7 separate regions of the Homo sapiens genome follow, and all the other regions are reported to be linked to region 1. Evidence: microRNA targets listed by miRTarBase, many of them from high-throughput screens and not tested one by one. Region 1 holds a microRNA gene; each other region holds the end of a gene's coding sequence. Distances are between the middles of the regions.
Evidence for each region. The annotated mature microRNA hsa-miR-4786-3p reads UGAAGCCAGCUCUGGUCUGGGC and lies in region 1 at 2,474-2,495, opposite strand. An mRNA with a match to its seed (bases 2 to 7 or 8) in the 3' UTR can be bound and repressed. Matches are read on the target gene's strand: a 7mer-m8 pairs with bases 2 to 8, a 7mer-A1 pairs with bases 2 to 7 and ends in A, and an 8mer does both.

Region 1 (4,077 bases):
AGATCCATAAGGAGATATGTGTGTTAAAAGCTAATTTTCAGAAAAAAAGTAAAATCATGACTCTCATAGAAATATAAAAAGGAACACATTTGAAATTTAGTCTATTCACTTATCAAGGAAGGTATCAGACAGATGTTATCACCAGTTCAAAACAGAATCCAAAGAATAGCCACACTTAGAGATCAGAGATATTTAAATCAATATGCAAGTGAAGGCAAACCGGGCTCTCTCCTGGGGATGGGAGGTATTCACTGGATTTCCACTATACAGCACAGAACATTCCCGTCTATATGAATTCTTTTGTACTGCTATCAGTGACCTACAAGGAACAGAGTTATAAGATAGTTCTAAATGATGACAGAGTAGAATCCAATAACCTTGAGGAGTGTCCTCTAGGCAATGCACAGTTTTCTGTGAACCACAGATATTCTTCTCCATGTGTGAGGTTCTTCCTGCAGCACTGCAGGCCGTCTGGGTACCCACCACCCAGGAAGGGTAAGCGAAACTGGACAGCAGCAAGGTCACTACAAGGTGCAGAAACAGGCAAGCCAGATGCACCCACGGCAACAAGGAAGGAGCTTACAGAGGCAGTGTTGAGTGAAAACACACAGGCAATAGACGTATGACCCATAACCATTTACGTTCCTTAAAAATGCAAACACACGAAACAACACATTATGTCAGAACATATGCAAACAAAAAGATCTCTCAAGCACAGGGAATGCTGGCCTCCCTGGACAAGGGCAATGGGAGTGGCACATAGGGTAAAGTATCTTCACAAACAGGGACAGACACTTCCCACGCCCGATGATGTGAATGCACCGGGGGCACAGAACTGCGGCTGTTCCACCCTCGGTGTCAGAGGTTCCTTCCTCGACATCAAAACGACAAAGTTCAAGGACGTGGTGGCTCACACCTATAATCCCAGCACTTTGGAAGGCCAAGGCGGGCAGATCACCTGAGGTCGGGAGTTGGAGACCAGACTGGCCAATATGGTAAAACTCCATCTCTACTAAAAATACAAAAATTAGCTGGGCATGATGGCGCACGTTTGTAATCCCAGCTTCTCAGGAGGCTGAGGTGGGAAAATGATTGAACCTGAGAGGCGGAGCTTGCAGGGAGCCAAGATCGCACCACTGCACTCCAGCCTGGGCAACAGAGTAAGACTCTGTCTCAAAAAAAAAAAAAGAAAAAAAGGTTCAAGGAAGAAAGGAAAAAAAATTCCAAATTCCTCTCTTCAGAAAAACCATCTACATCAGTGAACAACATCCTGATATTTTTATGCCTGTATATCAACAGAAACACAGGTATGCTTTCATGAAATGGGATCTATCAATGCTATTTTAAATTACATTTAATTTATTTTAATATCAGTTTTCAACATAAGCAAATGAAAGTAAAACTAGTGAATTTTCTGCACCAAAACAGTATGGACCTTAGATTTTAAAATCCTCTGAAATGAGAAAAACAAATGGATTCTGCATATTGAAAGATCACACCATGTGTGCACAAACTATTTCACTTGGAATCACTTTGGTCTGAACACCAGTGATTCTTTTGCCGGACTGCCTTTGTCCACCTTCCTATAAATTAGTTTTACATATACAAAGTTCACAACAGTTTTCATCCCTCTACCACGTTTACCTTTACTTACTGTGGCTGTCTTCAGCCTTTCCTCTAGGGCAGCGGTGTTCACGCGGTAGTGTGCGCTGCAATCACCTTGCTAAACACAGATGCTGCTGGGGCCCACCCACCAGGGCGCCTGAGCCAGCAGGCCTGGGTGCAGCCTAGACACCTGCATTTCCGACAAGCTCCCAGGTGGAGGCTGGGGCCGCTGGTCCAGGAGCCACACTTGGAGAACGATGGATTTCTGTCAATAGCAATTTCAGCCTTGCTATGTCGTTTGTTGCTGTTTGAAATGTATTGGTTTGGTTCTGACACTGTTTCGGTTCTGTTTGCTTCCTGAGGTCTGACATCTTATTTTCATTTCTTAGTCTTATACGTTGTTGACATTTATTTTATTGAATTCATGTTCTTATCAAACTGTTCTCTTAGGCAAAGCACAGGAATATTTTTTTTTTCTGTTCACGAGCTGTGCGTCCTCTGCCTTCCGCATGTTTATCTTGCGCATGCTGTGGTCCCTTCTCCAGCACTGAGTCACGGGTTTCTCTGTGGGACGTTTGCCTGTCACTTGCCCTCCCCTTCCCTGCCTTTCCATTCTCTTCAAGCCCGAGCAGCTCTGACTGGGTCCTCATATGTTTTAACACAGCACTGGAGGGGTTTTAACTCTTTCCACAAAACCTGGCAAAGGCTCGTCTTCCCCTCTTAGCCACAGGAAGCCCAGGCAGTTTGTGTTCAGGCCACCTTCGGGAAGCCTGCAAGGATGGTGGTGGCAGGAGGAGCTCAGCCGAAGTGGAAGAAGGTTCGTTCAAATGCTGAGGCTCTGCTCCTGCTTCTGGAATCCTGTGAAATGGCCCAGACCAGAGCTGGCTTCACCTCATCACAGGGAGAGTGGTGCATCCAGTCCTGGTCTCAGGCCATGCCCACAGGCCAACGCATCCCTGGAGCCTCCACTTCTTACGGAGAGTTTCAACTCACAGTTATCTTCCCATGTCTGCCAGAGGCATTGCAAGACTCCCTGTCTCCAGATCCCAAGCACAGAGGCGGCCTGGGGCTCCGCTTGTGTACCAGTGGGACTCAGGCTTGGTGGCAGGTCAGAGCCACACGAATCTGCCTTCTGCTCTACTCTGAAATCTTTTGCTTATTTTATTGGCTACTAATTTTTCTTTCTTTTTTTTTGAGATGGGGTCTCACAGTGCCACACAGGCTGGATGGAGTGCAGTGGCGCAATCAGAGCTCACTGCAGCCCCAATTTCCTGGGCTCAAGTGATCCTCCCGCCTCAGCCTCCCAAAGTGTTGGGATTACAGGCGTGAGCCACTACACCTGGTCTTTGGCTACAAATTTTCAAAGTGTATGGCCTTGTTTGTTTTCTGCTGGGATTATTTTTCTAGTTTTTCCTTTCTATTCTGTTAGGGACTGGGGGCAGGACACTGTGATTCCGCTTAATCCTGCTGTCTTTGACATTTTTTTAATGTCCATGAGCAGGGACAAATCTTAGTCTCATAAGAATGTGCCTGATTTGGGAAGCAGGCCTCACTCAGCACCGACCGCCCCTCCTGGCACAGCACTGGCATCCCCTGGTGTTCCATAAACACAGAGACTGAGAGATGAGCAGACGAGTATGGGCCCTGGATGCTCCCTGCAGCCCCTCTGCAGAGCTGGACCTGCAGTCCAAGACTCCTTGGGGATGAGGGGTCTAGGGTTTAGTCCCTGTCCCTGGACAGTGATGGAGCTAAAGGCATGGGGCAGCGTCTGTCCCTTTTATGGGGGGAAGCTGAGGCTGCTGGGGGCAGTGCCTGTCCCGAGATGTCCCCAGACTCAGGTGCTCTGCTCCTTCCTTCCCATAAATCCTGGGCCTCCCCTGTGTCCTAAGGGCCTGCGGCCACCTGGCTAGTCCTGTTGCTGGTCCTCCTCCAGGTGCAGGGCACCGGTGCCCGCAAAATGAGCCACCCTGCCCCTGACCACTGCAGCCAGGCCCCTGAGAGGAGGCACATGACTCAGCCCACCCCCTCCTGGCATTGTTATCCTCCTGCCAAGATCCTGAGGCCATGCCAGAAAGGACCTGGGGCCAGCCTAGACCTTTCCATCATTTCACGTAGGCAGCAGCCTTGCCAAAGTCCCCGGGGGCAGAGCGGCTGTTTGGGTCTGGCGTCTGCTCCAGCCTGGCGTCCCCCATGCTGAGTGTGGCCCCAGGGCCAGCGCCGCAGGCTGAGATCCCAAGGCTGCATCTCTGGCTCGGACCTCTGGTCACGGCTCAGGCTGGGTGCCTGGCTGGCCACCTCCCCTCACAGTGCTGTCAGACTCTCAGTGAGCTCATGGCGGGAAATGATTACCTTTCCATGTGAATTCAGGCCGGGTCTGGACAAGTGAGGAGGTGCACTTTCCTCCACATCTGTTTGAAAGTGATTTTCTTCATGGAACTGGCAGCGCGGATCAAGAAAAATGACTCAGAACCG
Region 2 (4,077 bases), not on the chromosome of region 1:
TTTGTCTGGCAAAAGTAAATAGTTGGGATGTAAGGGTAAATTTTTGAAAATTACTCTTAACGTTGTAAGATTTTAGATGCATGCCTTTATGCTTGGTGAGCCTCTGCATTCGAGTATTTAGCCCTGCGCTTATTTTTATTCCCAGGAAGAGAGAAGGGCACAGTTACCTAAGTATCAACGTAATCTTCCTCGGCCAGGACAGGCCCCCATCGGTAATCCACCAGTTGGACCAATTGGAGGTATGATGCCACCACAGCCAGGCATCCCACAGCAACAAGGAATGAGACCCCCAATGCCACCTCATGGTATTCCTCTTTTTATGTTTTTCATATTTAGTGGATTTTCTAAGTTCACGCATAAAATATTAAATTTATCTGCAGCATACGTTGCACTTAAAAGTACAATGCGTTAACAATCTATTTTTTTGTGTTTGAAATTCTTGATTTTAGGTCAGTATGGTGGTCATCATCAAGGCATGCCAGGATACCTTCCTGGTGCTATGCCCCCGTATGGGCAGGGACCGCCAATGGTGCCCCCTTACCAGGGTGGGCCTCCTCGACCTCCGATGGGAATGAGACCTCCTGTAATGTCGCAAGGTGGCCGTTACTGATCTTACTTCATCCAGTCTAATAGGTTTGGAGATTAAACCTTTTCTCAACTTGTGCTGTTTATATAGCCAAGCTTCCGTCAATAAGGCTTCATTGTGACTTTAACAAACATTATCTTCCCACATACCAGGAACTATTGGACATTTATTTTACATGGGAAAAATTATTTGGAATAATAAAGCAGGAACTTTTCCTGAAGTTGCAATTTATACTGTATGGCTTCTTTTTCATGTTTCATCTAGGTTTTTAGAAGTGAAGTATAGTAAATTTGGTTCGTTAAATTGTGAAGGCGCTGGAATTACATGAACATACCACCCTAGTAAAGGCAAGTTCTGTAAGCTTACATTGCTATTTGTAAAGTTTGCCTTCACAGCATTTCAGATGCTGTTGGACTTCATGTCCCCAACCTAGCTTGGTGAGGGCTGTAACTGTTTCCAAGTACTTGTACATTGGAAGTCTGAATGTGTAACAATATTTAATGTATTTAGAGTTCCTCATGTTGCAGGGTTTAAGAAATCTGACCCACCAAGGTCATGTGACTTTTCTGTACTGTTAAACTTCATTGTAATAAAATGAGAGAAAAATTTATGCCTTTTTATTCATAACCCAGCTGTGGACCACTGCCTGAAAGGTTTGTACAGATGCATGCCACAGTAGATGTCCACATAATAAAATTCATAGTTACCAATGCAGTTTTGATATATCATTGGATTCTGTCTTTGAGTTGTAGGTTATTTCTTAGCTGCATGTTTTAAACTGAATTTGCATAGAGTTGTATGTTAATGTTTCAGTTAAGAGAAAAACTTAAGATACATGAGTCATTACATAATGGGTATGAAATCTTTATAATCACCCTTCCACCCTCTATGGTGTCAGTACACATCACGTGTCATAGATACTTAAAATGTAAATGTTAACACTTTTCCTTCCTGCTGAGATGTTTAGAGCCTAGTGCCAGACCCATTCATTTCCTTTTGATTATTTTTGAGACTCAGTACTGCATGGACCTCAGAAGCTTTTCAGGTGCAAACTTCTAGAAGCTTAGGTGCATGCAGTAATAGCTTCTTGTGCTGTTAATGGGTTATTATATATTATTCTAAGTGTAATGCTGAGAATCTAAATGTGTCTCTGTTGGGATGGTTAACAGATGAATTGGCAATTTTTATTATGTTCCTGGAAGATTACATTATTCATTTGAGTACCTTCTGTTATTAAGCCTAGGTAGCCTTACTGTGCAACTTTTTATTTATCCTTGGAAATTTTGAATGTTGTGTTCTTACAGAGAGCTTTTCTGTAGAGATGACTGCTATTCAATATTTTGTGTTGCAACCTCTTAAAATAATAGCTCTTGTTGACCTTTTTGGGATCTGTTTTTCTGATCTTTTGCAGGGTAGTTTTATGATTTTTTAGGCATCAAATAACCTATGCAAAGTATTAATATAATGAACTCAAGTTGAGTTTTTCTCATTATAAAGTTAAGACTTCTAAGAAAATGGTAACATTTCTTTATAACTTTCCTGTGAAGGTATAGATAAAACACATGAAGTCTGAAGTTGTATGGAAAAAAGGGCTTTAACTTTGAAGGAAAATATATTGAAAAGTGATTTAGCCATCACAAAAGAGTTCGTATTTATGTGACAGATGAAAGTCATACCTTTAAGCAAAACATTGCAAGTATTATAAAGCTGAATGCTATTTTAACTCACATTGGCTGGGTGCAGTGGCTCACGCCTGTAATCCCAGCCCTCTGGAAGGCTGAGATGGGAGGATTGCTTGAGTCCAGGAGTTTGAGACCAGCCTGGCCAACATGGCAAAACCCCATCTGTACAAAACATTTAAAAATTAGCCAGGCGCGTTAGTGTGTGTCTGTGGTCCCAGCTGCTCAAGAGGCTGAGGAAGGAGGTTCTTCCTCCTTCCGAGGCTGCGGTGAGCTATGTTCACTCCAGCCTGGGCAACAGAGCGAGACTCTGTCAAAAAATAAATTAAAATATCTGATTATCTGGCTTCAATGATTTTGGCTCCTGTGCTTGTGGTACCATAGTGGTACAAAAATTTTCATAGTTTGAAAATAAAACAGGTATTTTGCCAGTAATGTATTTCTTTCTGCCAGCAGCCAAGTCCCAAACCACTTTCCCCTCTGAACCTCTGCTTACCTAAATGGTTTCAAAATTAATACATGCTGCTTTGATTTGGCAGCACACTTAATATACTGCTGAAGGAAAACTTGTGTTGAAAGTCTTTAAGATAAAAATGGTGTGATAGGCCGGGCGCAGTGGCTCACGCCTGTAATCCCAGCACTTTGGGAGGCCCAGGCGGGTGGATCATGAGGTCAGGAGATGGAGACCATCCTGGCTAACACGGTGAAACCCCGTTTCTACTAAAAATACAAAAAATTAGCTGGGCGTAGTTGCGGATGCCTGTAGTCCCAACTACTCTGGAGACCGAGGCAGGAGAATGGCGTGAACCCGGGAGGCATAGCTTGCAGTGAGCGGAGATCACACCACTGCACTCTAGCCTGGACGACAGATTGAGACTCCGTCTCAAAAAAAAAAAATGCTGTGATTAAATTTAGAATAATTAAGTAAGGGGTGCTCTCCCAAATTCTCAGGAATTTCATGTATACGGTTATTGACAAACTGCAATAGGGTTAGTAGACCTGTTTCAGAAATTATGTGAAGCTTTATTTGCATTTTATGCAAAGAAGGTTGATACTTTGTAGCAAGGTTTTTTGCTCTCTGTATAGGTCTGATGGGCAAAAATGGAACTTTTAAATATGGGATAGAATTCTAATTAAAAATTAATTGAAAGTGTTAGGCATTGGCAGATAAAACTTAAGCTCATGAGTTCCTGAGTTTGTAGCTATAGGCTCAGAGGTGGTGTACCCATTTAATATATTTGAAGTGTAATTTTTGCATGCATCCAAACGTAATTAAGCTTCTAGAAAATACCTTTTTTCTAAATGCTTCTGGGGTCCATAGTGTGGTTGAATTATGAGTGGAGCAAATTATATTCATATAATTAACTCTGACTCAACCTTCCTTAAGTAGTAGATGAAGTTGAGTCAAAGTGGATGCCAACTGCCCTCACAGAAGACAACTTTTGGGACTTGATAATTCAGGCAGGCATTGTGATTGTCATAATTAAGGAAGCTGTAAGGTTAGTAGGGCTGGCAACTTTGGCTCTACCTTACATCCACCCCTTTTAGAAAAACAAGAAAACATTTTGTCTGGCACTAGTTTCTGTTGTATAAGTTTTCATACTGTTTAACAAGACCACAGCAGGTAAGGATTAATTTTTGAGTGGCTGCTGGAATTACTTGATTTGAATACTTAGTATTTTAGTAGTGTCTCACACATTTGCCATTAGGTATGAATAAAATATTCCTACTGTACTCCTATTCCACTAAGTTACATTTTGAACTTAGACTCACCTTAATTAAACTTAATTAATTGGGGAGGGGGATTCCCCA
Region 3 (4,077 bases), not on the chromosome of region 1:
ATCCAGCACTGGGCTTTTCCCTCCAGGTTTGCCTGGGGCAGCTTCTTGTTCTTTGTCCATCATTTCCTTACCTGCTGTGGCTTCAGGGTCCAGGCTGCCCCCCAGGGTGGTCCTGTGGGGTAGGGATGTAGGGTCACCCCCTGGCCATGTTTGTGACTCTGAGCCAGAGGAGAGAAGGGGAGAGAGAAGGGGGACACCCCTCCCCCTGCTGTCAGGGACTGCAGCCTGCGCCCCCTAGTATGGCCACTGCACCTGATCTGTCTTCAGGTCTCCGTAGGTGAGGGTGGGAGACAGACATCTCGCGAGGTCAGGGTTACCTCCTCTTGTCACCCCCAGGCAAGGTCCCTGGTGTGAGTTCAGGCCAGGGCTGTGCAGGGCTGCAAAGATCAAAGGGGCCCTGTGGGCACAGACCTGTGTCCTAGGGTGCCAGGTGTCCTCAGCTGCACCTGCCCATGGGTTGGGGTTGGAACACAAGGAGGCAGCTGGAAAGCTCACAGGCTGGAGGAGCTCACAGTCTAAAGGGCGCGGCCTGTGCTGTCGGTGGCGGAGTTGGGCTGCCAGGCTCACAGTCTGGGAAGCTCATAGGCCGGAGGAGCTCACAGTTTGAAGGGTGCGGCCTGTGCTGTGGTCGGTGTTGGGCTGCCAGGAGAGGGGCGCTGCTGGGTTGTGGAAGCCATTGCCACCATGGGGGAGGGCGGGGAAGGACAAGATGTGGGTGGGGGAGCTGAGCAGAAGGTGAGAGCTGGCGCTGCCCTGGTGCTGGACCAGGCACCTGCAAGAGACTCAGAAAGGGAGGCTGGGTTTGGGAGAAGGTTGGAGGAGGCGGAGGAGGGATCGGGAGGGCCCGAGGAAGCGGTGAGCCAGTCAGAGACCCAGCCCAGGGGCTGTTTCCTGAGGGGGCTGCCGAGGGAGGTGCTTGTTGAGCTTCAAAAGCCCAAGGCGCAGGCCCAGGGTGCTGAACAAGCAGGACAGAGAGGCTGTGGGAGAGGAAGCTGCAGAGAGGCCACGGGGCTGCAGGGTTGGAGGCTTGGCCTCAGGCTGGGCAGTGTGTGGTGGGGCTGCTGAGTGGGGAATCGCAGGTGGGCACCCAGGAGTGTGCCTGCACAGGGGGCATCGGGGACAGGGACAGGAGAGCAGCGTGAAGTTGGGGAGGCCAAGGTGGGCCTTGGAAGTGGAGCTGGGGGGTCTTTAGTGCCCCCCACAGGGGTGGGTGGTGGGTCCACAGGGGAAATCTGGGAGGCCACGTGGTTAAAGGCTGCAGGATGTAACTGGGCGATTATACACACTGGGGAACATGCTAGAATACTTTGTGTGTTGTGTTTTATTAACACCAAAATGTGCCACATCATGGTTTAGAAGAGGTGGAGGGTGCAGGCAGGAGGCTCCGAAGGCCCAGGCAGGGCCGCCAGCCTCTGGCCTCTCCATGGACTCCAGCTGGAGAGCCTGTCCGCTCAGCAACACCCCAGGCAGCACCAAGAATAACATGCCCACAAGAACATCATGGCCAAGAGACGCACAGGCGCATCCCGCTTCCAGGCACCTTTCCCACCTGGCCAGAAGTCCCTGCTGTCATCCCGACTTGCACGGTGGTTTTGGTAACCAGTGGGCTGTGCAGGAGTGAAAGTGGGGTCACTTTCCTTCCTTTCCCAGCTGCTGGAGTCGGAACTGCTGCCTTTGTTTGGCGGCCTTGTTTCTTAAATCAGTTCCCTCTTAGGATTTATTACACTAAAAAAAAAATTAGTTTTTGAAAAGAAATAGGAGAATACAGAAACATGAATTTCACGAGGCTATCATCTAACAGTGGGGGCTTTCTACACACGTGGTGCCAAAATGTGTCATTCTGAGTCAATTGCAATTCCTCTCTAGGAGTGAAAAGAGATAAAAGATAAGCCAAGAACCCTGGACAGATTCTTGGTGTTGGTGACAAAGAGGAAAGGACCTGAGAATGGGGCTGGTGGGGAGAGGGGGGTGTCTGCTGGATACCAGGAGGACAAGGACCACTCCCACCTGCAGGGGTGCCCAGGACCTAGTTGGGCTCGGCCTCAGCTGCACCTTGTCCCCTGCCCTCACCTGGCCCCATACCTGTCAAGGATAAGCACTCCACAACCAGCCCTTCTAGCGCCTGGCTTGGGCCGGGCCTGTGCAGGGGGTGCTCATGAGGCCGGGGCCACAGGTTGTCTGGACCATGTTTTACTGTGCTGCAAAGGCCAATGCCCCCTCCCCACTCTCACCCAGTGCTGGCCAGAGCCTCGCTGGAGGAGATGGCAGACCTGGCCAAGGCGCCCCTTCGGGCTTCCCTGTGTCCCGTCCCCAGAGGCCTGCCCTGTCCAGCTTCCTTGCCACTCCAAGGGGCATCTTCTGGTCCAGCTCCCCCCCCCCTGCCCCACCCACCCCTTGCAAACTGCCCGCAGCCAGCCCAGTCTTCCCCACAGCAAGAGACGGGCCTCCAAAAAAGATGCTGGGAGGCAGCGAGCAGGAGAATCCAAGTAGGAAAGGAAGTGAAGCCCAGGCGGGGGAGGGGGGAGACGGGGGGGGGGGGGGGGGAGGGAAGGAGGAGACCTTGAGAGAGGGAGGGAGCGGGGAGGGGGGAGGCCCTGAGAACAGGAGGCCCTGAGGAGGAGAAGGGCCCAGAGAATGAGGAATTGAGGCACAGAGGCGAGACCCTTGCAAGAGGATAGGGGACTTAGCGGGGTGCAAGGCTCACGCCTGTAATCCCCCCACTTTGGGAGGCTGAAGCGGGCTGATCATTTGAGGCCAGGAGTTGGAGACCAGCCTGGCCAACATAGTGAAACCCTGTCTCTACTAAAAATACAAAAACTACCTGGGCGTGGTAGCATACATCTGTAATCCCAGCTACTCAGGAGGCTGAGGCAGGAGAATCGCTGGAACCCGGGAGGCAGAGGTTGCAGTGAGCCCAGACCGCTCAACTGCACTCCAGCCCTAGGTCTCAAAAAAATAAAGGGGGCGGGGGGGACTGAGGCACAAAGAGATGGCGGAGCCAGACGCTGCGCCACGCAAGGCTGACGGTGCAGAGATGAAGGTGCTGAGGGGAGAAAGGCACTGGTGGCGAGGGGTGCAGCCCCAGCGTTGGGGAGGCCAGGGGGCAGAGACGGCAGCTGCCAGGTGAGCCTCCAGTGGAGCCGAGGTCTGGCGCACTCAGCCAAGCCCCAAGCGGCCGTGGCCTGACAGCCGCTGCTCAAGCAGATGAGCAGGGCTCTCTGTTCCGCGGGGCTTCTGGATGACCGGGGCAGCGATGCGGGCACCCTGGCCTGGGTTGCCAGGCCAGAAGACTCACTTCTTGCTTTTGAACGTGCCCAGGATCTTGGGCACGAACTTGCCCACCTTGCTGTCCCTGGTGCCCTCCTCCGCGGGGCCTTCCCCTGCCCCAGGGCTGCTGGCCTCCTCTTTCTTGCAGAAGACCTCGAAGCGGCTGTACACGCGCTTCTCCTTGCGCATGCTCTCCATGCGGCGCAGCAGCCGATCGCGCTCCTCCGCGCTGGCTGGCAGCGTGCGGCTCAGCCGGCCCTGGGTCCCCAAGCTGTCCGAGCGGAAGATGGCTGAACACTTGTCCTTGTCGGACATATCTGGGGCCAGGACGCCAGCAGCCGGTGGACGGCCTAGCTCGGGGCTGTTGTGGGTCGGGCCGGGGCTCGGGGCAGGGACCGCACGGTGCTTCTGGCCGTGGGCACTGATCTGCTCCAGAATGGCCTTCGTGTCATCCCGAAGGTTGCTGCTGTACAAGGCGTTGGCCGTGGCTGAGGACAGGCGCGCCCGCGGACCCCGCTCTTCTGTGGCAGCCTCCGTGCTGTCACCCTGGCCCAGTGACAGACGCCGCGGGCTCTCGGGTTGGCCGTTCTCCTGCGGCACTGGGAAGCCACCCTCATCCTCCATGCGCCGCTCGCCCTTGGGGCTCAGCAGCTGCCTAAGACGCAAGGAGCCTTTGCGCAGGACTTCCATGGGGCCGCTCGGCCCCTCCTCCGCGGGCCCGGCCTTCGGGGACTCCCCGGAGATGGTAAGGGTGAGGCTGCCCCTGCGCTCCGGCACGGGGGGCACCGGACTGCTCCTGCGCTCCGGCAC
Region 4 (4,000 bases), not on the chromosome of region 1:
CCAGCTTTTTTTTTTTTTTTTTGAGACGGAGTCTCGCTCTGTCGCCCAGGCTGGAGTGCAGTGGCGCCATCTCGGCTCACTGCAAGCTCCGCCTCCCAGGTTCACGCCATTCTCCTGCCTCAGCCTCCCGAGTAGCTGGGACTACAGGCGCCCGCCACCACGCCCAGCTAATTTTTTGTATTTTTAGTAGAGACGCGGTTTCACCCTGTTAGCCAGGATGGTCTCGATCTCCTGACCTCATGATCCACCCGCCTCGGCCTCCCAAAGTGCTGGGATTACAGGTGTGAGCCACTGTGCCCGGCCCCAGCTAATTTTCTTGTTTTTGCAGAGACGAGTTTACACTGTATTACCCAGGCTGCTGTTGAACTCCTGGGCTCAAGAAATCCTCCTGCCTTGGCCTCTCAAAGTGCTGGGATTACAGGCATGAGCTACTGCAGTGGGCCCTTGGGATAATCCTTCAGAGGTGAATTATTCTACTGAAGATTCTGGCCAGGCACAGTGGCTCATACCTATAATCCCAGGACTTTGGGAGGCTGAGGTGGGTGGATTGCTTGAGCTCAGGAGTTCGAAACCAGCCTGGGCAACATGGTGAAACCTCTTCTCTACAAAAAATACAACAAAAATTAGCTGCGTGTGGTGGTGTGCACCTGTATTCCCAGCTACTGGGAGGGCTGAGGCAGGAGGAATGTTTGAGCCCCTGAGGTTGAGGCTGCAGTGAGCTATGATTGCATCACTGCACTCCAGCCTGGGGGACAGCGAGACCCTGTCTCAAACAAAACCACCACAAAGAAGAGATGCCAATATCTTAATGCCAGGATTATGAGGCATTTTCTTTTTTGCTCACTTCTATTTCTAGGTTTTCTACATAAATGTGTTACCTTTTGATAAGAAAACCATAGATGGCGTTACTACTGTTGCTCCCAAGTTGGGGAGAACCTCACAGCTGAGGGCGCTTGGCTCTCTGCTGCCCTCACTTGGCCTCTCCTCGCCAGGCCGGGGTAGGAGCTGAATGGGCTGCTGGAAGCCTGAGCCTCAGGTTTAAACATGATGTTCCCAACATCTTGAGGACCCGAGGTCAGTGAGCTCAGAGGCGTTTGTGGCTCCCGCTGCAGGAAGCTCCTGATGGGAAGCCGTCCCAGCCCTGCACCCTCATCTGCCCTCAGGGTCTGGTTCAGGTTGGTCCTGCCGGCCCCTGGGAGCCGGTCCCCCTGCTCACTGGCTGTGGTCCTCCTGCCCGCTGGGCACTGGGCCAGAATGACAGCCCACCTTGGTAGAGCTCCCTCTGCGTTGTGCTGTGGCTTAAGGGTCCCCATATCAGCCCCGGATGGCCGTCCTGTTACTCCCGTGTCAAACTGAAGCCAACAGAAATGCAGATCCCAGTCACCAGAAAGGTGACCCCAGAGCTTGTGCTGTGACACCCTGGCCATTCCCCATCCCCGCCGCCTCAGCATGGAGCCGTGCAGCAGCTCTAAGCCCTCTCTGAGGAAGACGAGGTCTTTTTCACAACCTGACCGTGGTCCCTGCAGCCAGGGGCAAGGACGGTCAGGGATGGCTGGTGGGCTCAGGCTTTTCTGAAGAGCTGAGCTGAGCATTTCCTGCCTGGACACCCTTCTCTGCGCAGCAAACTCTGGGGTGTCCTTCCGGCCCAGGCTCAGCCAGGCAGCGAGTCTCCTGTCCAAATCCCTAAGCCCCTCCAGGGACACTGTCTGGTCACACTGTGGCCACCCCAACCCGAGCCCCCCACTCCAGAACCCCCCGTTGAAGAGGAAAGAGAAAGTGGATGAGAGCCCCCTTAGCAGGGACCCTGCCCTACCTGGAAGGCCCGAGCTGCCCAAGCAAACGAATACAGACAGCCAGCAGGCATCATTCAAAGGCTGTATCTTTTTTGGTTTCCTTTTTTGCTTTTGTAAAGAAAAATAAGGTTGTGTTTTCTGTTTGAAACAAAACATAAAACCCCCTCCCGCTGGGCCTGTTCCCTGGCTCTGGGGGATGCTGGGACCGCAGGTCTGGGCAGGAGAGGCCAGGCTGCCCGGCTGAGAGGAGGGAGCGCCCTCAGAGCCAGAGATGGAGTGCATTTGGGAATGGAGTTTGATTAAGCAAAAAATAAAAAACCTCGACACACACACACACGCCTGCTATACAGAAATGGGGACCAAGAGGCGCTGCCTCCGAGTTGGAACCATTGCTGGCAGCTGGACTCAAAAGTCCTGATGCTGTCCTGGGGCCCCCATTCCCCACGTTTCAGGGGTAGGCAGGGCAGGAGGCGGCATCCACAGCTCTCAGGACAGGAGTCAGGGGAGAGGAGGGTGACGTCAGAGCAAGCTCCTTCCCCACATTAAAAAAAAAAGTATTAAAAAAGCACCCAAAGCTTAAAAAAAAGAATCCTCCATGGCAGGGAGAGTTGGGGGCATCCTGCTTACTAGCAAAATGCCTGACCTGGCAAAATGTGTAGAAAAATAAAATTAAACTTTATCCCTGAATGGCAGAGTGAAGACCCTTCTTCCCGCCCCACAGTGAGTCTCAGAATCCACCGAGACAGCTGATTCCTCCCCAACTGGCACCAGCACATGACCAGCAGACACACACTGCCCCAGGCCCGTGTCCCAGGCCCAGGGTGGGACAGCGGAGGGGCTCTGATAGCCACGGGTGCACGGTCCCTCCCCGCTGCCTCACAGCATTGGGAGCGCCCCTCCTCAGTGCCAGGAAGGAGCCCCAGCAGGGGAGTGGGCAAGAGAACCAGGGGAAGATGGGGTTCTCAGGGGCTCCTGGGCAGAACTAGGGGAAGATGGAGTTCTCAGGGGCTGGAGGCAGGTGCCCAGTAGGGTGGTCGAAGGGGTGCAGTCTCATCTGAGATCTGAAGGCCCCCCGCCAGCCTGCCCTGCAGTTCCATGTGCAGCTGAAGGACCAGACGTGCAGGCCTGGAAACACAGGGCGAGGTGGGCCAGGGCGCTCCGCATTCTCAGGGTAATGGGGCTGCTTCCAGGAAGGTCAACAGAGGTCACAAAGCAGGGCACATGGGGCAGGGGAGGGTGGGGCAGGGGCTCGCGCTGGTCCTGGAGGCCCAGCTGGGCCTTTGGCTGCTCAGACCTGGGAGCTCTGAGGATCCCGGGAGCCCTTCTGCCCACTCCACAGGAAGGGGCAAGATAGGGCAGATGATAAGGACCATGCTTCCCCCTCCCCCAGGGGGCCTTCAGCTTAGTGGGGCTCTGAGGTTGCCCCAGGTGAGACAGGGGAGTACAGTACAAAGATGTGACTACGCCTGTGGGCGTGGGGCCAGAAGGCAGGCCGGGCAGCTCCTGCTGCAGTTACAGTAGTACTGGCGTCCCTGCCAGGCAGGGCTGAACTGTGTGGGGCACCCCAGGGTCATGCAGCCCCTTGGGGCTCCCTGGCTTCGGGATCAGAGTGTCAGCACCAAACACAACCGATGTCAGCCAAGGAGGTGAGTGGGCAGAGAGTGTGACCTCAGACACATGCTCAGCCCTGCAGTCCGTTAGGTGAGGAGGGGCAGGTGTCCTGAGGACAGTCACAGTCCAGTGAGGTCAAGGCCCTGGAGATGAGGGCAGAGGTGGCAGCCCCTCCAGGGAGGGTCCTGAGGCCGGCAGTGGTGAAGCAGCAGGCACCGGGTTGCTCCCCTCCGAGGGGCTCCAACGGTGGGTCAGCGCAGGCTCTGGTACAGAAACACCGAGGTGAACAGGGCGTTGGCGGCCAAGCTCACGGCCAGGAGGCCCCGGACCAGGGAAGGGCCGAAACGACCTGCAAAGCAGAGACCTGGTCAGAACATTGTTTGGGTGGGTGGGTTCGCTGTGCAGCTGAGCAGCCCCCTAGAGCATGCAGTTTGTGGGGAGCTCAAGGCTCTGCCCAGGGTACTCTCTGAGACTGGTGAGGCTCACCCCCAATTCTTCTCTTGGCCAAAGGCTTCCCTAGCAGGAAAGACCCCCACTCCCTGCCTCCCTGAAGGCACAGCTTTTCCTAACCCTGAGCCGCCAGGAAGGCCATGGGC
Region 5 (4,077 bases), not on the chromosome of region 1:
CTGGAATGAAAACAAGGAAAGAAGAGAAAAGAAGGACAGACATCCCAGTAGGAAAAGTTCTCATCACCGCAAGGCAGGTGAAAGTCACCGCAGGAGAGCGGGGGACAAGAATCAGAAAGCGTCTTCCCACCGGTCCGCATCTGGCCATAAAAACACGAGAGATGACAAAAAAGAAAAAGGGTACAGCAACGTAAGGGGCAAGCGACATGGCTCCTCTCGCAAGAGCTCCACCCACAGCTCCACCAAAAAGGAGTCGAGAACAACTCAGGAACTGGGGAAGAACCAATCTGCATCTAGCACAGGAGCTTTACAAAAGAAAGCCAGTAAGATCAGCTCTTTTTTAAGGAGCCTCAGGGCCACTCCTGGTTCAAAAACAAGGGTCACATCACATGACAGAGAGGTAGATATCGTGGCTAAGATGGTGGAGAAGCAAAACATAGAGGCCAAAGTGGAGAAAGCCCAGGGTGGCCAGGAGCTGGAGATGATCAGTGGCACTATGACATCCGAGAAGACGGAGATGATCGTCTTTGAAACCAAATCCATTTAAAGAGGAGCCAGGGCTACAACCGCCCAGGGATCTGGAAGTATCCCTAGAGGAGCCCATCCCAGCTTTCTTTACTGCAGTTCAAATAATAAAGGAAATCGTACAACTCCAAAAGAAATACAATCTCCTGCTTGAATTTTTCTGCCCATAGCCTGGTGGTGACCTCACAGTGGCTTCTGTGATGGTGGCTATGCTACAGCTGGAGACCCCAGCCTCCAGGCAAGTAGAGCTCCACCACCCGCCCACGGCCAGCAGAGCCAACGTGAGTGTTCAGCTTTGCCTCAATCCCTTTTGCTTCCCCGAGACTGTCAAAGCCACAGACTAAGAGCTGGGATGCATGGCCACCACCATGTCCCCTCGCCCATTCTCCTCTTTTCCCTGAATGCCCCTGAACATGGACATTCAGTCCAGTTCTTAGCCTATGCAGAGACAGGATTCACATCCCCTCAGGGGATATTCAGGGTAGGAAGGAGCAATACAGCAGTATTTGTAGGCAATTAGAATAGGAAATCTATTCTTCTAGATCAGGAATTGGCAAATCATGTTCTGAGGTCCAAATCTTACCAGCTGCCTGGATTTGTAAATAAAGTTTTATTGGAACATAGTCACAGACTTTCCTTTGCATATTGCCTATGGCTGCTTTCACGCTAAAAATGACAGCTCTGAGTAGTGGCAATGGAGACCATATGGCCCACAGAATCTAAAATATTATCTGGGCCTTTAAGAAAATGTGTGCTGACTCTTGATCTAATCTTAACAAGTCTTCCTCCAAGGTGTAGACAGTGGAGAAATTCTCACATATGCTTACCAGTAGACAACTAGGAGAATGTTTACAGTAAAACAAGTTGTAATAGCAAAACCCTGGAAATTGCCCAAATGTTCATCAAACAGGAGAGTTAATAAATTGTGGAATGGACTACAGTGCATAATCTACAATAGTGAAAATGAATAGCAGCTATACATGTTAGCATTGATAAATGTTTATTTTTTATTTTTTTGAGACAGAGTCTCAGTTTGTTGCCCAGGCTGGAGTGCAGTGGGATAATCTTGGCTCACTGCAACCTTGGCTGCCCAGGCTCCAGTAATTCTCATGCCTCAACCTCCGGAGTAGCTGGGATTACAGGCATGCACCACCATGCCCAGCTAAATTTTTGTATTTTTACTAGAGACAAGGTTTTGCCATGTTGGCCAGGCTGGTCTCGAATTCTTGACCTCAAGCAATCCGTCCTCCTCGGCCTCCCAAAGTGCTGGGATCACAGGCATGAGCCACCATGTGTGGCTGGCATGGATAAATCTTACATAATGTGGGATACTAAAAGCAAGTCACAAAAATATATATGATATAGTTCAATTTGTAGAACAGCTCAAAAATAAGATTCAACAATGGGATATATATTTGCTAAAAGTATAGAGAAAAACAAGGAAATGATAATCACAAAATTAAGGATAGTGACTATCTATAGGATAAAGGGAGAGATGTCTGATCTGAGGGGCACACACAAGGAGTTTCAACAGAATAGTGATTATTCTATTTCTTAAAGAAGAGGTTGTATTCATGGGGTGTTGTTACTGTATCTTTATTTTAATATCTCTGAAATCAGGATTGTTTTTAAATCTGTCAGCAAGGTGTCAATTGCATGTCACTATCACTGCCTTAGAAATGCCCTAATCAATTTATTTCACCAATGTTTTCCTTTTTACACATACACATGACAGATTTATGACAGAATATCTAAGTCTGAAAGATCTTTCAATAAGCATGAAATAAAAATTCTAAGTGACATAAAAAGTATTCAGAAACACGGAAAAATGTTTAAATATATTAAGAAGTAAAATAGTCCAAAATGCTGTGTACTAACATGATGTAAATTATGTGTTCGTGTGCAAGTTAATTCCCAGAATAAAAAAATCACACTACATTAGAAATGGGATTATAAATTTTAAAAACCTTTACTGTAAAAAAAAATTGTCTTTCCGTTTTTAAAAAACCTGTAAAATGAGTCCATGGAAAACATTAAATTATTAACACCAAATAATAAAATTTGGATTTGAGAAAAATGATTCTGGGAGCCATGTAAGTCCAGGAGGGGAGCACCTGCCCAGCCTTGCAAGTCTTTGCTCATTCTCTGCAGCAGCAGTACCTTGGAGGACAGAAGTTGGGTTTCCGGCAAAACTTAGGGACCTTTTCTGAACACCAAATATGTGTAGCCAAGATGGAGGAGGTGAGAAGCGACGTATTCTGGGAGGAGCGGTGGCTTGTCAGTATCAGGGGAATCCCTTCTCAGTTGCTCTAGTGGGTGGCTGGAAAATCTCATCTTGTGATTTTTGATAAATACCATAGAGGCTGAGATTAAGATGTTCTGGGAGTTGACTCTTGAAACAGTGGGTACAGGTAGAAGGAGAGAGAAAGAGAGAGAGGCACATACTCTAAAGTCTGAGAGGGCCTTTGGGAAAGCCACCCGGGAATGTGAAAGGTTGGCAGGTGGGGTAGAGGAGAGAGATAAAAGGAAACTCCTTTCAAAGCCTTTGGTCTGGAGTTCCAGGTTTACAGCTATGCCAGAGTCTGAATTATCCTAGCTACAAACGGTTTAATCTCATAATTGTGTAGACTATGGCTTTATCTTTTGTCTTTCTTCTAGTCTTGTTTTATACACCCTCCCCTGTCTGAGGGCTTCTTCAGCATGAATATAGTTTATCCACCCAAATGCAATTTAAGTAAAGTAGAGATGGGGACTTGCCCACCACAGCGTGCTGTGCCATGCACTTTCTCTGCATTTCCTTTTCTATCTTGATACTTCATCAAGAGATAGATGCATAAATACCTATGTATTTCAAAGCAACAGGCCTCTTCCTCAGAGGGAGTTATCAATTGGGGCATCAAGTCAATACCCCTATCAGATAAAAGCCAATATTTTTAACGGCAATATTTGTCACCATGGTAACAATTCTGCTGCTGCAAGTGCAATGAGACAGTGGATGGTCGATTACTAACCAATGTTCCAAACTTAAAGTCTGGCATTACACACATAAGAACAAAGATGACAAAGCGATATTTTGCCAAAAGCAGTATAAGATCACTCATGCAGTTGTCATGTTAGGGTGGAGTCTTTGAAGCAGAGGAAACTGGTCTATGGTGAGAAGAAGCAAGGTGCCTCAAAATGTCAAATGCCATCATGGCTGGCAGGGCAAGAACGGAAGGCGAGATGCTAGAGGGAGCAGCAGGGGACAGACTGTGCAAGGCTTTGAGGTTCGCATATGCTACTTTGACTTCTGTCCTTAGTAATGAGAAGCCACTGAAACATTTTAAGTTGAGGAGTGACTTGATCAGATTTGTATTTTGTAAAGGTCACTGTAGTTGCTGTGAGAAAAAAATATTTGGGAAGGTAGTTGTTAATATGTGTCCTTATGTAATTCCTGTCTTTTGCTGCAGGATCTATAAAATGAGATTACAGGAGATGTTTTGAAAGACATGTTCCCATTAGAAATGTCCATGTGATGGCTGGGTGCTGTGGCTCATGGCTGTAATCCCAGCA
Region 6 (4,077 bases), 110 Mb from region 1:
TATCTGTGAATTTTTAGTTCCTGGTGGGTGATATAATGGGTCCAGGAAGTCTAAGGAGGTGACATTTTAGCAAAGACCTGAAGGAGGTGTAAGGCCTCAGAGGTTCTGGAGCAGCCAATGCAGGGCCGTACCTGGAATGTTTTGGGACAAGTGTGGGGGGCAGAGAGGCCTGAAGCCTTTCCAATTTCTGGGGATATCCAGATCCTCCTGGGTCGTGTGTTACACTACAGATACCATGGTGACCTTCTCTCCTTTCCTCCAGGCCTGCAGCTGGCCGCAGACATAGCCAGCCTCCAGAACCGCATTGACTGGGGTCGAAGCCAGCTCCGGGGACTCCAAGAGAAACTCAAGCAGCTGGAGCCTGGGGCTGCCTGACATGCGCGCAAAGAGGCAGGGCAGCGAGCACAGCTGTTCTCCGACATGGCTACGTGATCTCAGGCCTTCTTCCTTCACAATTAGCTCTTGCCCCTACCCCACGCCAGCTAATGCCCCTTCTGTGTCCCTGCTCTGCATGTTTCCATTTTCCTTAGGTGTGAAGTTTGAAGAGGCAAACAGTAATTTTGAAAGCCACTACTTTGAAACCATTCTAAGGCCTGAGTTCCCATAGGACACACTCACATAGGCAGGTACACGTTAGTCAACAATTGGAACTGCCTCTTGGATCACTCAGCTGTGCTTTCATGGCTGGATGATGGAACACTGTGCGAAGAGAGATGGGGGCCAGGAAGTAGCGCTTCATGCTTAGTACATCCTCCAAATTGTCTTTGCTGGAGGAGAAAACCGTACTCAGCCAAAAGATCAGGACAATATGACTTGAGTCCACAAGGACACAAACACCTGAGTAGCTGGGCAGCCCTTGGCAGGGTCTAAGCCAGGAAGTAAAAATGATCTGGCCTAGATATTTAAGGGAACTCTAGGAAGAGGCCTAGGTTTTTAAAATCCTGTCTCTTTGTCTTACCATAAGAGGCTGAGCCTCTCTTCATTTTTTTGAAGGGCCACTTGTGTTTTCTGTTCTGGGAACTTCATTCATTTTTCTACTGGGTTGTTGATCTTTGCAGTAATTTCTAGGAGCTGTTTATGTTTGGAGGTAATTGGTCCTTTGTCCATATATATGAGATGTAAGTCTTATTTTCCAGTTTATCTTTTTGCTTATTTTTTTTGACTTTTTATTGTAAAATAAAACATCAAACTGCACAGAACAGTTGAATAGCTTAATGAATAACTACAGTAAAAGCTATGGTAACCACTACCCAACTTTTGTGTTTTTTGATCATTATTTGTACGTACAGTTGAATGTATCCAGCTGTCACATGATTCTGAATTTGGGTTTGTAACTGATAAGGCAATCAGGGAATTCTCCAGCATTTTCAAGAACCTCTGTGGTTTCAGTTGAAATGTCCAGTGAGTCATGTCCAGCTTTTCCACCATCCTCCCACGTGCTGTATGTCGGTTAATGCTGCCCTTTTGTTTTGCTAACTCCCAGTGTAAACCTAATGTAATTTGGGGGTTTTCATTCTGTTTCGTGGACATTACTGTCAATACACCAGTACCACATTGTTTTACTTCTTGAACTTTAACATAATCCCTGTATGGCAGATTCGCGTTGGGTTGAGGGGTCGTTTATTGGCCCTGTTGACCTTGAGTTGCCAGGGAAAAGACTAATGGGGGAACTCAAATGGAACCCCTGTGACTGCAGGAAAAACGGGTATCTGCCCCCAAACCTCACCAAAGGTTGCCTTTTGTAACAAAGATCCTATCCACAAGGTTCCAGTTAGTGAGATTCTGAAGCCAAAGTAAGGAAAAAAATAAGTCAATTTTGCTGGGGCCACAAATTCTTCCAGGAGGAGGTGCGACCCCGTGGAGCACGCCCTTCGCTGCTGATTGTGGGCGGACACTGGGGTGGGCACGTGCCTCCCACTGCTGGCTTGGGGCTGGACTCACAGGTGGCCATCCTCCTATCAGGGCGAGGCCATGGGCTCTGCAAATAGGGTTGGATGAAGACAGCAAATCTTTAGCAAAGCATCCTTAACTTGCTGCCCTGACCTTCTGCCCTAACTCCAGCTCTTGGGGAGACCGCCAGGAAAGGGGATTCTGGCTTCTGTGGGGAAGTGGCTTGTCCCACCAGGGCTAAGTCGAGAGACTGGGTTCATGCAGCGAGTCTGGCACGGCTGCAGTCATACGAGTTTCTACAGGGACAGCAGGAGCTCAGTGCTGCGCAGTGGTAGTTGGGAGGCGCTGGCGGTGAAGCTGACGCATGTCACGTATACAGACACGGTGGCGTCACCTTTCAGCAGTTCCCATATGGTCTAGCGGTTAGGATTCCTGGTTTTCACCCAGGTGGCCCGGGTTCGACTCCCGGTATGGGAACAAAAGTGGCTTTTTTTTTTTTTTTTGCGGGTGTATATTTTTTTCTTTCAACTTGAAAATGTTCGCCAGAAGAACTTTGACTTTTCGCCACTAGAACGCTCCAGGCCAGATTGGGTATTTCCTCTTCACTTGAACTTGGAGAAACAGGCCCAGGGAGATCCGGGCCCCATCGCTGTGTGTTTTGATGGCAGTGACCATTTTCATCATGACATTAGCTAGTTGTTTTGACCATCAATAGCTTACTGAGTATATTAGATGCTATATACATCGCAGATGTGAATATTAGAAGTAGTGAAATGCCCGATAACATTGAAAATATTCAAAATGTGTTGCTGTGGAACCCCCAGCAGAAGGCAGATCCCCACTGGCCTCCATCACGCTCCAGCGCACTTGCTCAGGTTGGCAGGAGCCACCTCGGGTCCGTGAGCTGCCTCTGCAAGGCAGGGATAGGAAGTCCTAGGAAGTCTACTGGGAGCATAGCACTCTGGAAAAATTTACCTTTCTCTCTTGCTGCTGCTTTGTTTTGTCCAGTAGTCAGGGTTCCCGTTTTCTCACTGGGACAGTCCGGGCTTGACTCCACTCCCCCAGCAGAAAACCAACTTCAAACTTCAATGATGCCTTCGTGCCAGCACACAAACACATGTCCGGTGGAAAGGAGAACCCAGCTGGGTGAGGCGGCAGCTTCAGTCCCAGCTACTAAGGAGGCTGAGGCTGGAGGATCGCCTGAGCCCAGGAGGTTGAGGCTGCAGTGAGCCGAGGTCATGCCAGTACCCTCCAACCTGGGCTACAGAGTCAGACCTCTTAACTAAAAAAGACATTGTTTTTTGGCTTGCTCAATTAATCCAGGGAGATTGTATGTAAGGCTGAGGTCATGTCTTCAGCAATTACTGCCACACTCATTCATTCATTCATTCATACCTTTGTTTTTTATAATTATCACTAGTAAGCATACCAATGAAAATTTTTGTTCTGGCACATAAAGAGCTTCAAAATCATCACTTCCATCCTTACAACAAGAAAAAAGCTGAACGAACTGGAAAATCAACAACTCTTCGATTCCTCAGAAAATTGAGGTCACGTGGCAAACCACTCCCCTGAAAATGAGAAGGAAAGGCAAATACAGAGCTACAGCTTGCCAGGCACAGAAGCTGCTGCTGCAGCCAGCAACCTGTAGGAAAACTTAAAGGGTAACTGACTAACTGCTAGAGCCTGGGCATGTAAGCATAAGAGAGAAAAGATGCTGGGGACATAGCCTTAAGGGGCCCCCACAGTCTCATGGGTTTTAGCTCCAGGAATTCTATCTTGTTCTTGGGTGAAAATCAGAGAAAAATCTGCTGGAGCTTCTGGCAAGGGGAGGAAAGTGTAACCACTTTGAAATGCACACATAACGTCCTGTCCTCTTTAACAAAGGCTTAAAGTCAGAGCAACTACCAGAGCCTACCCAACCCAAGGGAAGGAAAATATCCACCTCCAGTCTGCTTTAGTCTTCCAACTCACATTAAAAAAAAGCTGAGAAGCACTTGTGAGTGGCACAGCCTAGGGACCACTGGTTCACAACAAGACTGGGCCCTGATCATGGGTTTATAGACCACTCCCTGCTGTCCCCACATCTTACTGCCACATCACTTAGGGCTCCTATATATTAACAAGGGATTGCAGCTGAAAGAACTGCAAGGCCCAGAATTTATGTAAGAAGCAGTCTCTAGGGAA
Region 7 (4,077 bases), not on the chromosome of region 1:
CAGCTCCAGCTCTTGGCATTTGCTTCTTCCTTCCGTCTGGCATATGTTTTCCTTGTACTTCAGGTATCAGTCTACATATTGCCTCCATCAAAAAGCCTACGTTATTGACTCAGAACTGGGATAGGTGTCCCTTCTGTGTGTTCCAGTAGTGCCCTGTCTTATACCTGTCATGATATCTGTGACTTTGTATGGAAATTGTATGTTTGTCTGTTTTTTTCAGATTATAGCATATGTTTGTTAGAGGTGGATCATATCATCTTCATCTTGTAATTCTAGTGCTTACTTTGCTCATGGTTGTTGAATAAATGAATGAAGAGTGAGAAAGCCAGAAGCTCTGATATTTAACCACAAGGATAATTAATTCAGTGTGCAACCATGGGCAAATTATATTTAATAGTAATATTGTATAATAGTTGTGCATACATATTTTTCTTTCTTATTAATACTGACAAAATTCTCAACTCTTTTACTGACTTCCACTTAGTTAACTATGAAATCTTTTAGGTAAGGAATATAATTCTTTCTTTTTCATTCTAGCTGCTGCTGAATTGGAATCTGGATCAATAGCTTCCCCTCTAGGGTCTACTGATGAGTCAAATCTAAATCAAGATCTAGTTTGGAAAGCATCAAGAGAATATGTACAGGTTTTAAAGAAAAATTATATGATCTGAAAGATAAGATTTTATTACTGGGCTGTTTATGTGACATTTTGTTTCTCATTAAATATTAATATATGACATGTAAAAATATTAAAGGAACGTATTTTTGTATCATATATGTCAGATCAAAATTTATATAGTATTTTAAACAATGTTACTTGGCTTCTTTAACTTTTAAGTGGATTTTGCCAATGAAAACCAGGAATATTGAGTTTTACATACTCAAACTGCCCAAATGTGAGCTGTTTAAACAGCCAAACCACTAAGTTGTCATTAATACTTTAGTGCAGTTAATTGATGGCTTATTTGTATTTTGTAATTTTTATCACTATATGTAGTGGTAGATGTCTAATTGGACTTAGACATCATTTTGTTGTGCAGGAACTGTGGTCATTGTTCATGTTTGGATGTATTACAATTGTTACAGTGCCATCAAATTTACATAATTTTAATTTTAAGCACTGATTTATATAGCTGTTCTCAGGGAGAAACAAGATTTGCCTGATTCACCTTTTCTGTTTGTTTATTTATTTTTAATTAACCTTTTGGAAATAGCCTTCAGTTTAGAGAAAATTTCGAAGTTTTAGTACAAAGACTTTCTCCTCCGAACAATTTGAGAGTAAATTGCTGACATTATGTCATCACCCCTGATTACTTTAGTGGGCATTCCTACAAGTCAGGACATTCTACATAACTACAGTGCAAACCTTGCAATCAGAAAGTCAACATTAATACATTCTAGTTTGTTACTTCTCTGTAATGTCCTTTATAGCAAAAGGATCCCATTCTAATCCATGGCTTGTATTTAGTTGTTGTATCTGTTAGATCTTTCAGTCTGGAACAGTTCCTCAGTCTTTCCTTGACCTTCATGACCTTGAATATTTTGAAGAGTAAAGTCTGGTAATATAAGAATGTCCCTCAATTGGGTTTCATGGTGATTAGATTTAGATTATATGATTTTTTGGCAGGAGTATCACAGAAGTGACCCAGTGATCTTCTCATTGCATCTTACCTGTGACCCTACAGTTTTGATTTGCCCTGTTACTGGTAATGTTAGCATTGATCACTAACAGTGGTATCTGCTGAATTTCTCCTCTGTAATGTTATTTTTTCACCTTGTGGTTAATTAGTATTTTACAGGGAGGTAATTTGAGACTATGTACATATCTCTACTCCCCATCGAACCCTCAATTTATTCATTTGCTTGTATCAAATAAACCATGGATTCATGGTTTATTTTATTCAGTGAGTTATAATTCATTAATATTGTTATTAAAAATTTGTTTTTCTTTTAAGAAATGTTATATTTTGACAACTTCAGACTTACAGAAAGATTATAAGAGGTAGTACAAATAATTTTTGGATATTATTCCCCAAATGTTAACATTTTACTGCATTTACTTTATCCTTTCTCCCCCTTCTCCTCCTGTCTTTCTAGATGAATATGAATATAGGTACTTAATACAGATTTTTTTTCTAAACTGTTTGTAGGTTGCAGACACGATGCCTCTTTATTTCTAAATAATGTGTATTTCCTAAATAAAAGGAATTACCTTACATAACTGTAGTATAATGGTCAAAATCAGGATATTAACACTGGTTCAATGTTAATATCTAATCTATAGACCTTACGCAGATTTTGCCAATTGTCTCCAAAATATCCTTGATAGCCGAGGAAAATTCAAGATGGGGGATTTTCACCAGGTGTGATGTGTTGGTCCAATTGTTCCGTTTCTATAGTCTCCTTTTATCTGGGATAGTTCCTGAGTCTTTCTTTGATTGTAATGACATTTATGTTTTTGGAGAGTATAGGTCAGCTGTTTTGTAGGCGTTCTCTCCATTTTGGTTTGTACAGTGTTTCCTCATGATTAGCTTTAGGTTGTGCCATTCGGGCGGGGCTTTCACACAGGCTGAGTTCTCTGCAATGCAGCATCTGGAGGCATCTGCTGTCACTCACTTCCATTACTGGCCAATGTTGACTTTGATTATTTGATTTGTTGAAATAATCAAAGTCAACATCCTGCCATGTTTGTCCATGGTTAAGCTACTATATACTTTGTATTTCATAAATATCTTGTATAAAGATACTTTGAGGCTTTGTAAATATCTGGCTACTACTCAGAACTTCACCCACAAGATAAAGCATTTCATTGGTGATTTGTGCTTGAATCAATTATTATTATGATGGTTGCCAAATGATGACTTTCTTATTCCTTCATCCCTTCTATATTGATAAATAGAACAAAATCAGTGAACAAATAGGGGGAGAAGGGAAAGCTTACTAATTTGGTGTTCAGATGCCCCCTGGACTTGGCCAGTAGTAGCCATTTCAAGCTGACTTTGTGTCCTTCTGACCTGTCCCCCTTATTCTTTGAGCACTTCAAGGGTCAACTGTATTTTTAACTTCCTTTTCTGACAGCAACCTGGCTCCCTTCATCCTGAATATATATTAAGTACTCATTTAATGCCGTCGATAGGCTTTGGAATCTGACTGTAAGTGAAATGACATATAACAGAACCAATTTGGCATAGGCTAAATGATACAAATAAAACATAACGTTCCTATGACATATTGTTGGTCACAAAAACATCACTAATCTTCTAAGTAAAGACCCCAAAACATGAATACTAAACATTGAAATAAATGTGAGCTCTACATATATTAGGAAAGATTAATTTAAAAAATTAAGATACTACCCAATTTTGGGTGCGTCAGTGAGTGATAGTGGTTGTAGTGGTGGTGCTGTGTTAAATCAAGGAATAAATGTTGCAAAGTGAAAAAATTGTCAGGAGCACCTGCTGCCATCATGCAGCTATTTGAACACTATTTTTGTGTTCAAAAATAGTCACAAATATGGCAGGCTCATGGAGCACTTTCATACCACATAATTGTGTACCACAGCATTTGTGTTATGACCATAGACCCTACAACATTTTATTTTATAGTAATTTGCATTCATTCATTCCTTTCTTAACCTGCTTATCCCAGTTCAGGGTCACACATGGTCAGAGCCTCTCCTGCACTTAAGGGTGCAGGGTGGGAACCAGCCCTGGACAGGACATATCCCATTGCAGGGCCACTCACATACACCCACCCTCACTCTAACTGGGACCATGTCATGACGTCAGCACATCAGATAACCTAACATGCCCAGCTTTGGGATGTAGGAGGAAACCAGAATACCTGGAGGAAACCCACGCAGACAAGGGGAGAACGTGCAAACTCCACCCAGATGGGGCCCCAGTTGGGAATTCTTTCTCTCCTCAGCATGACAATGAAATGATGTTGTTCAAGAATCTGCTGTATTTACTGATTTGTTCAATCCTCTTGTGTGTAACCAGTCTCTTGTGTCCCGGCCCCTAAGCAGCTGTGCTTCCCACTCCCCCTTGGACTCCAGCACCCTTTATCAGGTTGCCT

Region 2: the mRNA of ZNF207 is a reported target of hsa-miR-4786-3p. Seed matches in the 3' UTR shown: 7mer-A1 at 695-701, 7mer-m8 at 825-831 and 8mer at 2,609-2,616.
Region 3: the mRNA of FAM83H is a reported target of hsa-miR-4786-3p. Seed matches in the 3' UTR shown: 7mer-A1 at 2,500-2,506.
Region 4: miRTarBase lists TMEM201 as a target of hsa-miR-4786-3p. The part of its 3' UTR that is shown has no 7-base or 8-base seed match.
Region 5: miRTarBase lists GARIN3 as a target of hsa-miR-4786-3p. Seed matches in the 3' UTR shown: 7mer-m8 at 715-721.
Region 6: the mRNA of VMA22 is a reported target of hsa-miR-4786-3p. The part of its 3' UTR that is shown has no 7-base or 8-base seed match.
Region 7: miRTarBase lists ANKRD26 as a target of hsa-miR-4786-3p. Seed matches in the 3' UTR shown: 7mer-m8 at 819-825.

What each region holds. Positions count from the first base shown.
Region 1 is chr2:239,940,550-239,944,626 of GRCh38, forward strand. MIR4786 (microRNA 4786) reads right to left here and starts at 2,545; the gene lies at 2,466-2,545. It also overlaps a transcript of NDUFA10 not described here.
Region 2 is chr17:32,369,150-32,373,226 of GRCh38, forward strand. It overlaps ZNF207 (zinc finger protein 207), which reads left to right. Exons shown (of 12, transcript NM_001098507.2): 11 at 146-305; 12 at 450-4,077. The coding sequence ends at 610. Among named protein-coding and RNA genes, the nearest start is that of ZNF207, 21 kb to the left of the region's middle.
Region 3 is chr8:143,722,630-143,726,706 of GRCh38, forward strand. FAM83H (family with sequence similarity 83 member H) reads right to left here. Exons shown (of 5, transcript NM_198488.5): 5 at 1,304-4,077. The coding sequence ends at 3,292. Among named protein-coding and RNA genes, the nearest start is that of MAPK15, 8.3 kb to the left of the region's middle. RefSeq lists an enhancer at 494-995.
Region 4 is chr1:9,612,739-9,616,738 of GRCh38, reverse strand. TMEM201 (transmembrane protein 201) reads right to left here. Exons shown (of 11, transcript NM_001130924.3): 11 at 1,862-3,753. The coding sequence ends at 3,656. LOC124903837 reads right to left here and starts at 2,075. Exons shown (of 2, transcript XM_047436734.1): 1 at 1,267-2,075. The coding sequence starts at 2,075. RefSeq lists enhancers at 701-760, 770-1,314.
Region 5 is chr5:157,158,917-157,162,993 of GRCh38, reverse strand. GARIN3 (golgi associated RAB2 interactor family member 3) reads left to right here. Exons shown (of 2, transcript NM_130899.3): 2 at 1-1,148. The coding sequence ends at 547. Among named protein-coding and RNA genes, the nearest start is that of GARIN3, 5.3 kb to the left of the region's middle.
Region 6 is chr2:130,335,418-130,339,494 of GRCh38, reverse strand. VMA22 (vacuolar ATPase assembly factor VMA22) reads left to right here. Exons shown (of 5, transcript NM_032357.4): 5 at 263-1,562. The coding sequence ends at 375. TRE-TTC1-1 (tRNA-Glu (anticodon TTC) 1-1) reads left to right here and starts at 2,296; the gene lies at 2,296-2,367. RefSeq lists an enhancer at 2,509-2,568.
Region 7 is chr10:27,002,184-27,006,260 of GRCh38, reverse strand. It overlaps ANKRD26 (ankyrin repeat domain containing 26), which reads left to right. Exons shown (of 34, transcript NM_014915.3): 34 at 538-2,145. The coding sequence ends at 671. Among named protein-coding and RNA genes, the nearest start is that of FAM238C, 62 kb to the right of the region's middle.